Regions from separate parts of the Homo sapiens genome. Here regions 2 and 3 are each linked to region 1. The links come from fine-mapping of genetic effects on gene expression. A gene starts in region 1. Each other region holds a variant in brackets. All regions are shown on one strand. Distances are between the middles of the regions.

Region 1 (2,829 bases):
AAGATGTCAGATGGGGGCAGATGGGCCATGTGTCCATCAGGGGCGGCTCTGAGGAAGGATGAACGCCCACCTTCCCCGCAGCCTCAGGGCACAGGGGCCGAAGGCAGGAGAGGCCCCCTTTGGAGGAAGAGTTCCCCCCAGACCCTTCCATGAAATACAAGTTCTCTGAGCCTCAGTTTTCCTTCTCTAAAAAATGGTTTATCTTATCTTACCAAACCATGGAGACAGTAAAACAAAAATGGGGTTATCCTATGTTACCAGACCAGGAGACAGTCAAAAACAGGCAAAGGGTGCACAGTCCCTTGTACGCCCGTTGCTACTGTGGGAGTGACGTTCATATTGAATAGGAGCCCTAGGGTTTCTGCTGTCTCCATTTTCCTGCGGCCCCCGGAGACTTCATTTGCCTTGCTCGATTACCAGCCCAGACCTCCCTCGCTTGCCCTGTCCCCAGAGGCCGCAGAAAACAGACTCTGCAGTAGCCCCCGGACGCATCGGAGGAAGCAGACAGGCAGCTCGCCCTCCAGCTGTGCCCTCAGTGGACCTGACACACACCTGGTCCTGCTCTTCAGACACAGGACCCTGGTATTTCTAAGAAATCGGAAAACCGTCGCCCAGAGGAAAAGGAAGTCTTTTGAAGAGGGTGCCCGGCGTGGGCAGTGGGGCAGCGCCCCGGCACAGCCCCTTCTCCACCGCGTGGGAGGGAAGGGCTGTCGCGGCAGTCGCCGGGGTGAGGGAAGAGGGGTCCCGGGTCTAGCGGGGGTCTGCCCAGGACCCGCTGCTCAGCCCCAAATGCCCCGGCCTGCGCTCGCGGAGGAACCAGGGTGCGCCCCTGTCACGACGCGGGTAAGAGGGGCTTCGGGGGCCAGAGTTGTGCCCCGAGCGCACGTGTGCCGGGCCCGGAGTCCCCAGCGGGTCCCCAGAGGCGCGCGTGTCTGATGCGGATGGGGGGCGGCGACTGGGACTCCCAGCCTCCCAGCCCGTGACAGCGCCCCGGGAGAGCGCGGCCCGGGCACCCGAAGGCTGCGCACCAGCCGGGTGGACATGCGGGGCGGCTGTCCCCCGTGGGCCGCGCGAGTCACCCACCTGGGCGGGCAAGGCGTGCGCCGCAGCCCAGAGCTCCAGTCCGACGGCCAGCGCGGCCCAGACGGCGACGGGCGCCATGGGTGCGGGCGGGGTCCGGTTGCCCCCTGCCCTCGCGCCCTCGCGCCCTCGCAGCCCAGCGCCTTCTCTCCAGGCTCCGCTGCGCTCGCTAGCCCTCGACTGAAAGCGAAAGCCCGCGCCCCAGCGGGCCAGAGGCCAGGCGGCGGGGCGGGGCGGGGCCAGCCGGCCTTGGACACGCCTCCCCCACGCCCCTCCCCAGACGCTGCTGGGCCTCCGACCCGACCACTCCAGCATCGCTGGGCCGATACCTCCAGCGTCACTCCCAGCACTCGGGTGACCCCTCAACCTCCTCCTATCGTCCCCTCCTCTTCGAATCACCATCTCCACCTGCCCGGCCTCCACCTGCCCGGCCTCCACCTGCCCTCCCAGCTCCCACAGGCTTCCCTGTCCCGTGAGGGTGAGGCACTAATTTGGAAAAACATCCCCCAAAGCTGACAGCTGCTTTAGGGGAACCAAGAGAATTCTAGATCATTCACTTATTTAGACTCTATTTTAAATATATTTAATTCTTATTTTTTAATTTTTTTTGAGACAAGGTCTCACTCTTTCACCCATAGCTCACTGCAGCCTCCAACTCCTGCGCTCAAGCGATCCTCCCACCTCAGCCTCCCGAGTAGCTGGGACTACAGGCTCGGGCCACCATGCTAGGCTGATTTCTTTATAGAGATGGGGTTTCGCCATGTTGTCCAGGCTGGTCTCGAACTCCTGAGCTCACGTGTTCTTCCCACCCTCAAGTGATCTTCCCGCCTCTGGCCTCCCAAGGTGCTGGGATTATAGGTGTGAGCCACTGCACTCGGCCTGTTTAGACTCTAGAGCCAGACCACCTGGGTCTGGATCTCTGAACTGACCTCATAGGACTATTCTAAAAATTTAAAGATATGTAATATACATAATGCAGTCTGTACTTTATATATACTTAAGTAAGTATCTACATATATAACAATAGGCATTTATAAATCTTGGCTGTTGTTACTACTCTTCGCGTGTTCATTTATCCTTAAACACGCATCCAGCCTTCTCACAGGGAGAAGACTCTGCACTTCCCTGCTCAAGTCTCCTGCCCAGGCAGGGGGCAGATGAACAGAGGCTGGGAGAGAATGTCACCAGGGAAGCTGCAGGGCCCTGAGGGGCTGCTGAGACCAGGCCCAGGAGAGCTGGCTTCCCCAGGATTTACATCATGACCGAGCACCCATTCCAGCTGCAATCTGTCCCCCCATCCCCACTTTGAGTGCCAGCCCTAATACAGGGCCAGCCCTGCGGGGCCAGAGCACATTCCTCCAGCCCTGGATTACGGGGGTCCTAGCCCCCAGCACATAGGGCATTTCTAAGGGTTGGGGTGGGCTGGGTGGCAGGAGGCTATTCTGTTCCCTGTTTCCTCACTGCAGGCTGCCTGAAGAGGTACAGAGACCCTTGCTCCCGGCCACCAGCCCCACAGTGGAGCCTGCAAGGATGGTGCTTCTAGGTGCTGAGTGCTGAGTGAGAAACTGGGAAGTGACTCCCTGGGGATGGAAAACCCCACCTCCTGACCAGGAGGCTGGGAAATCACCTGGTTTCCACATGTTTCTGTGACATGGACCACGCTGAGGGTGTGGCTGGTATGACCCACAGCCTTAACTCTGCAGAGCCGCTGGACAGACATGCAGAGCTCTTCTGGCCCTTATGAGAATG
Region 2 (2,841 bases), 34 kb after region 1:
CCTTCAATCCCATCCTTTTGTAGGCTCAGGAGGTGCTGATACAATGATTCTCAACGCACAACCTCTATCTTCTCATCTCAAACCTCTACCCTCCACTCCCATTGTTCTCCCATATTAAACAGGGGCCAGGTCACGCCCAAGCACATATTGACATTTAACATTTAACCTTGGCTCACTGGCCATCTGAGAAAGGTGAGAGGGCATCCGGGCATCTAACTCATCCTGGAGCAAGTCAGTTCCCAGAGCAGACCATCCTCCAGGGATGCCCAGCTTTTAACCACTCCTGAGAACGCTACCTACGGAGATCTGGAATATGCTGTTGTCAGGCACACATCCCTGGCTAGACAAATCTGCCACCAAGATGCCCGTATGTCAGCCACGCCGCCTCCTGCACACATCTCTGACTTCAGCAGCTCTGGAGAGCCACCAGCCCTGAGTCCTCACAGATATGCTCACCAGTGCTCAGTCAACAAGTAGGATAAAGTATACGCAAGACTGACCATTTGAACACGCTGTGTGGACACTAGGTGAGTTTGGGAAACACTCTTAGGGGTAATTTTTTCTTTTTTTGAGACAGAGTCTCACTCTGTCACCCAGGCTGGAGTGCAGTGGCACGATCTTGGCTCACTGCAACCTCTGCCTCACAGGTTTAAGCAATTCTCACAAGTAGCTGGGATTACCGACATGTGCCACCACGCCCGGCTAATTTTTGTATTTTTAGTAGAAACAAGGTTTCACCATGTTGGCCAGGTTGGTCTCCAACTCCTGACCTCAGGTGATCTGCCCGCCTCGGCCTCTCGAAGTGCTGGGATTACAGGCATGAGCCACCTTGCCCGGCCAGGGGTAATTTTTTTTTTTTTTTTTTTTTTTTGAGATGGAGTCTAACTCTGTCGCCAGGGTGAAGTGCAGCAGCGCGATCTCGGCTCACTGCAACCTCCGCCTCCTGGGTTCAAGCGATTCTCCTGCCTCAGCCTCCCGAGTAGCTGGGATTACAGGCACGCACCACCATGCTCAGCTAATTTTTGTATTTTTAGTAGAGACGGGGTTTCACCATGTTGGCCAGGCTGGTCTCGATCTCTTGACCTCGTGATCCACCCGCCTCGGCCTCCCAAAGTGCTGGGATTACAGGCGTGAGCCAC[G/C]GCACCCGGCCGAGGCACATTCTTTTCAATGACGTCAGTGAAACTAAATCATGGTCCCTCCAGAGTGATTTTGAGTTTTACAAGCAGCCAACTGTTCTTTGGTACCAAGTCACTGGGGGTGGCCAACAGAATAAAAAAAAAAAAGTGTGACAAAGTAACAAAACAAAATAAATAAAAATGACACAACTCGGCCTTGAAGGGGAAGTGGGTGAACGGGATCGCAGAGCTGCCCATACCCTGCAGGCTGGTTCCATTTTTCTAAAGAGCCATCTGGCAACAAAAACCTCACACTCTTTACCCAGTCATCCCTCTTGAGGGAACACACCCTCAGGAAATAACCCGAAAGAAAACAAAAAGGCCGAGCACAGCAGCGGGTTTATAATAACCCTCAAATTGAAAACCAGCCAAATGTCAAAAACAATGAGGCCGCTTAGCCACCCTGGAGCAGGGGCCTCCTTGGCGGTGAAACTCAGCACAATATTACTTCCCTTCTCCGAGCCTCTGTCCTCCCAGCTGGAAAATGGGATGAATCACATCAACTTTGGGGCTTGTTGAGAAGATTAAAAGAGATATCAAAAGTGAAGGTGCCCAGTGGTAAATCAGGTTGATTTTTTTTTTTTTTTTTTTTTTTTTGAGATGGAGTCTCGCTCTGTCACCGAGGCTGGAGTGTAGTGGCACGTTCTCAGCTCAATGCAACCTCTGCCTCTGGGGTTTAAGCGATCCTCCTGCCTCAGCCTCCCAAGTAGCTGGGACTACAGGTGCGTGTCATGACACCCGGCTAATTTTTGTATTTTCGGTAGAGACAGGGTTTCACCATGTTGGCCAGGCTGGTCTCAAACTCCTGACCTCAGGTGATCTGCCAGGCTTGGCCTCCCAAAGTGCTGGGATTACAGGCATGAGCTACTGCGCCCAGCCAAGATTTGATGTGATGAGCATGACGTTTCACCTCTGTGGTCTTCTTCCCCCAATGCATAACTCCAGTCTAATCATGGGGAAGACATCAGACAGATCCCAGGAGACAGGCGTCCCGCAAAACACCTGATCAATACTCAAAAACTGCCAAGGCCATCAGGGAAACTGGTCTTGAGAAACAAGATCTGAGAAACGGCCACAGGCCAGAGTAGCCTAAGGCGACATGATGACTGAATGTGACGTGGCTCCTGGATGGGATCCTGGAACCTTAGGCAATGCAAGGGAACCCTGAACACAGTGTGGGCTTTCGTTTGTAATCCTGTGTCAATAATGGTTCACATATTTTGACAAATGAACGATGCTGGCTTAAGATGCTAATCACAGAGGAAACTGGGTGTGGGGCATGTGGGAACTCCTGTGCTGTCTTCTCCAATTTTCTGTACATCTAAAACTATTTTTAAAAATGAGACTGGGCGTGGTGGCTCATGCCTGTAATCCCAGTATTTTGGGAGGCTGAGGTGGGCAAATCACGATGCCAGGAGTTCCAGACCAGCCTGGCCAACCTGGTGAAACCCCATCTCTACTAAAAATACAAAAATTAGCTGGGCATGGTGGCGCGCGCCTATAATCCCAGCTACTCGGGAGGCTGAGGCAGGAGAATTGCTGGAACCCGGGAAGCAGAGGTTGCAGTGAGCTGAGATTGCGCCATTGCACTCCAACCTGGGCAACAGAGCGAGACTCTGCCTCAAAAAAAAAATGAGGACTAGCTGGGCACAGTGGCTCTCGCCTA
Region 3 (2,500 bases), 30 kb before region 1:
AGCCAGGATGGTCTCGATCTCCTGACCTCGTGATCCGCCCCCCTCGGCCTCCCAAAGTGCTGGGATTACAGGCGTGAGCCATGGCGCCCGGCCACATGTTGGTGTTTTCTAAACAAAGGAACGCCACTGTCTCCCATGCCCTGGACGTTCTTTCTGTGGCAGGAGGAGCAGGTGGGTGCTGAGTCCACACTCTAAGCCCAGCAGCCCAGCTCAAGAGGACTCTCCACTGGCCTCTTATCAGGAGTAGCTGCTGGTTGAGGAGTAGCGTGGGACACAGGCATAAACCTGATTCAAACCTGGGCTATGCCACTCACCTAATGATCTAATCCTACAGGAAAAATGGAACCTCCCAGAGTCTCAGTTTCCTCCTCTGTAAAATGGGGGTGATGATGCTCCCTGCCCCACAGGGATGCGTGGGGACTCAGTCACAAAGAGCCTGGCAGGGCTCAGCCAGGGCTGTGCTGGGATAAGCTCAGGCCTGTGCAGATTTCCTCCCAACTCCATATTCAGGAAGGTCTTGGGAGTTGGAAACTGGCTACAGTGTGAGTGTTTATACCACAGAAATTAGCAAACACCACAAATCAGGGTTTGGGGGTTTTTTTCTGCACTAGACACACCACTGGGGCACTCAACAGATACTTGAGTCACTCACATTCAGTGAACACTGAGAGCAACAGTGAAAGGAAAGGGGCCAGGCGTGGTGGCTTATGCCTCTCATCCCAGTACTTTGGGAGACCGAGGTGGGCAGATCACTTGAGGTCAGGGGTTTGAGACCAGCCTGGCCAACATGGCAAAACCCCGTCTCTACTAAAAATATAAAAATTAGCCAGGCATGGTGGCGCATGCCCATAGTCCCATCTACTTGGGAGGCTGAGGTGGGATGACCACTCGAACCCGGGAGGCGGAGGCTGCAGTGAGCCAAGAGGGCGCCACTGCACTGCAGCCTGGGCGACATAGCTGTCTCAAAAAAAAAAAAAGAAAGAAAGAAAAAAAAAATGGAAAAGGGAAGCAGAGGCTGCTAGGCCACACCCAGGACATCTTCAGTGCACAGA[G/C]GATTGGGAAACGCTTGGTGGGGAAAGGGAAGGTGACAGCTGGGCTGCTGCGGAAGAGCTTGGGGGAGACACCTGCTCTACGCACGCCACCAGGCGGCAACCGTCAGTGTCACTGAATTGAAGCTGGAGAAAGGGAGCAGTGAAACTCGCTCGCCGGGGAATGAGAAAATTTCCTCCCCACTGAAATACTGTAGGGCAGGGCAAAGAGCACTGAGATGGGAGTCCAGAGACACACTGCGGTGCGACCTTGAGCAACTCAGTTTTCCTCCCTGCATCTCTTTTCTTGTCACCAAAATCAGGGGATGAAATCAATCTATCTGATTCCAAACACCTGGTGTAAGCTTCGGGTATTGGGCTGCCCAGGGCTGAGCTGTTCCCTCGAGCAGTGGTTCTCCACTAGGGGTGATTTTGCCCTCCAGGGGACACTTGGTGATGTCTGGAGAATTTTTGATTGTCACCACTGGAGTGGGAATGAGGCTGGCATGTAAGTAAATAAAGACCAAAGATGCTGCTGAATAGCACGGGACAGCCCCCACAACTAAGTAAGATATTTTATTTATTTATTTTATTTTATTTTTTCTTTTGAGATGGAGTCTTGCTCTATTGCCCAGGCTGGAGAGCAGTGGTGTGATCTCAGCTCATTGCAACCTCCACTGCCCGGGTTCAAGCGACTCTCCTGCCTCAGCCTCCCGAGTAGCTGAGACTACAGGCACGTGCCACCACGCCTGGCTAATTTTTCTGTTTTTAGTAGAGATGGGGTTTTACCATGATGGCCAGACTAGTCTTGAACTCCTGACCTCAAGTGATCCATCTACCTCGGCCTTCCAAAGTGCTGGGATTACAGGAGTGAGCCACCGTGCCCAGCCAAGATCCTTTTTAAAAATATTTATTTTATTTAATTTTGTTTAGGGATAGGGTCTCACTGTGTTTCCCAGGCTGGTCTTGAACTCCTAGACTCAAGCAATCCTCCCACCTTGGCCTCCCTTAAGTAAGATGTTGTCTCAAATATCCATGAGGTTGAGAAGTTCTTTCTCTACCTGCCCCTGAGGTCGAGAAAACTCATCAGACTCTGTTTTCTCATCTGTCAAATTGGGTAAAAAACCTGCCCTGCCTACCAGGTGCAAGGCTGTGACAGACGTATGTTCTGGCTCACCCCATACCCACTTCCAACCCCCCTCCCTTGTCCTCCTCCTCCATAGAGGCTGGAAAAGCAAAACACCCTCTTTCCCAGCTTCCCTCGCAGCTAGGGGTGGTCATGTGACACTGTCTGGTCAGTGAGATGAAAGAAGTCTACCCAGGGCTTCTGGGAAGGCATCCGATTTACTGATAAGGGCACCATGGCTGACCTGGCCACCTGCCCCTTCTTCCCACCTCAAACTTAGAGGTGACATATGAAGTGATGATTACCATCTTATGACATGAGGCCACAAACAAGAGAACAAAAGTCA

Which allele goes with the higher level. Alleles are on the strand shown, and positions count from the first base shown. SD is a standard deviation of normalised expression in the study named. Not every link is listed here.
In carriers of allele G in region 2, the expression in cerebellum of the gene that starts at base 1,262 in region 1 tends to be higher than with C alone (small effect, 0.30 SD a copy in GTEx).

What was found. PIP is the estimated chance that this variant, and not a neighbour inherited with it, causes the effect.
Region 2: its variant is the best candidate, but not a certain one, in a credible set for the expression of TNFRSF1B in cerebellum (GTEx, PIP 0.72).
Region 3: its variant is the best candidate, but not a certain one, in a credible set for the expression of TNFRSF1B in whole blood (TOPMed, PIP 0.84).

The regions. Positions count from the first base shown.
Region 1 is chr1:12,165,424-12,168,252 of GRCh38, reverse strand. TNFRSF1B (TNF receptor superfamily member 1B) reads right to left here and starts at 1,262. Exons shown (of 10, transcript NM_001066.3): 1 at 1,084-1,262. The coding sequence starts at 1,161. It overlaps MIR7846 (microRNA 7846), which reads right to left and starts at 1,310; the gene lies at 1,215-1,310. RefSeq lists an enhancer at 195-836 and silencers at 877-1,106, 1,117-1,426.
Region 2 is chr1:12,131,769-12,134,609 of GRCh38, reverse strand. The region is part of intron 12 of TNFRSF8 (TNF receptor superfamily member 8); the gene reads right to left. Among named protein-coding and RNA genes, the nearest start is that of MIR7846, 34 kb to the left of the region's middle. The variant G/C (reference allele first, on the strand shown) is at 1,140.
Region 3 is chr1:12,195,437-12,197,936 of GRCh38, reverse strand. The region is part of intron 8 of TNFRSF1B (TNF receptor superfamily member 1B); the gene reads right to left. Among named protein-coding and RNA genes, the nearest start is that of MIR4632, 5.0 kb to the right of the region's middle. The variant G/C (reference allele first, on the strand shown) is at 1,053.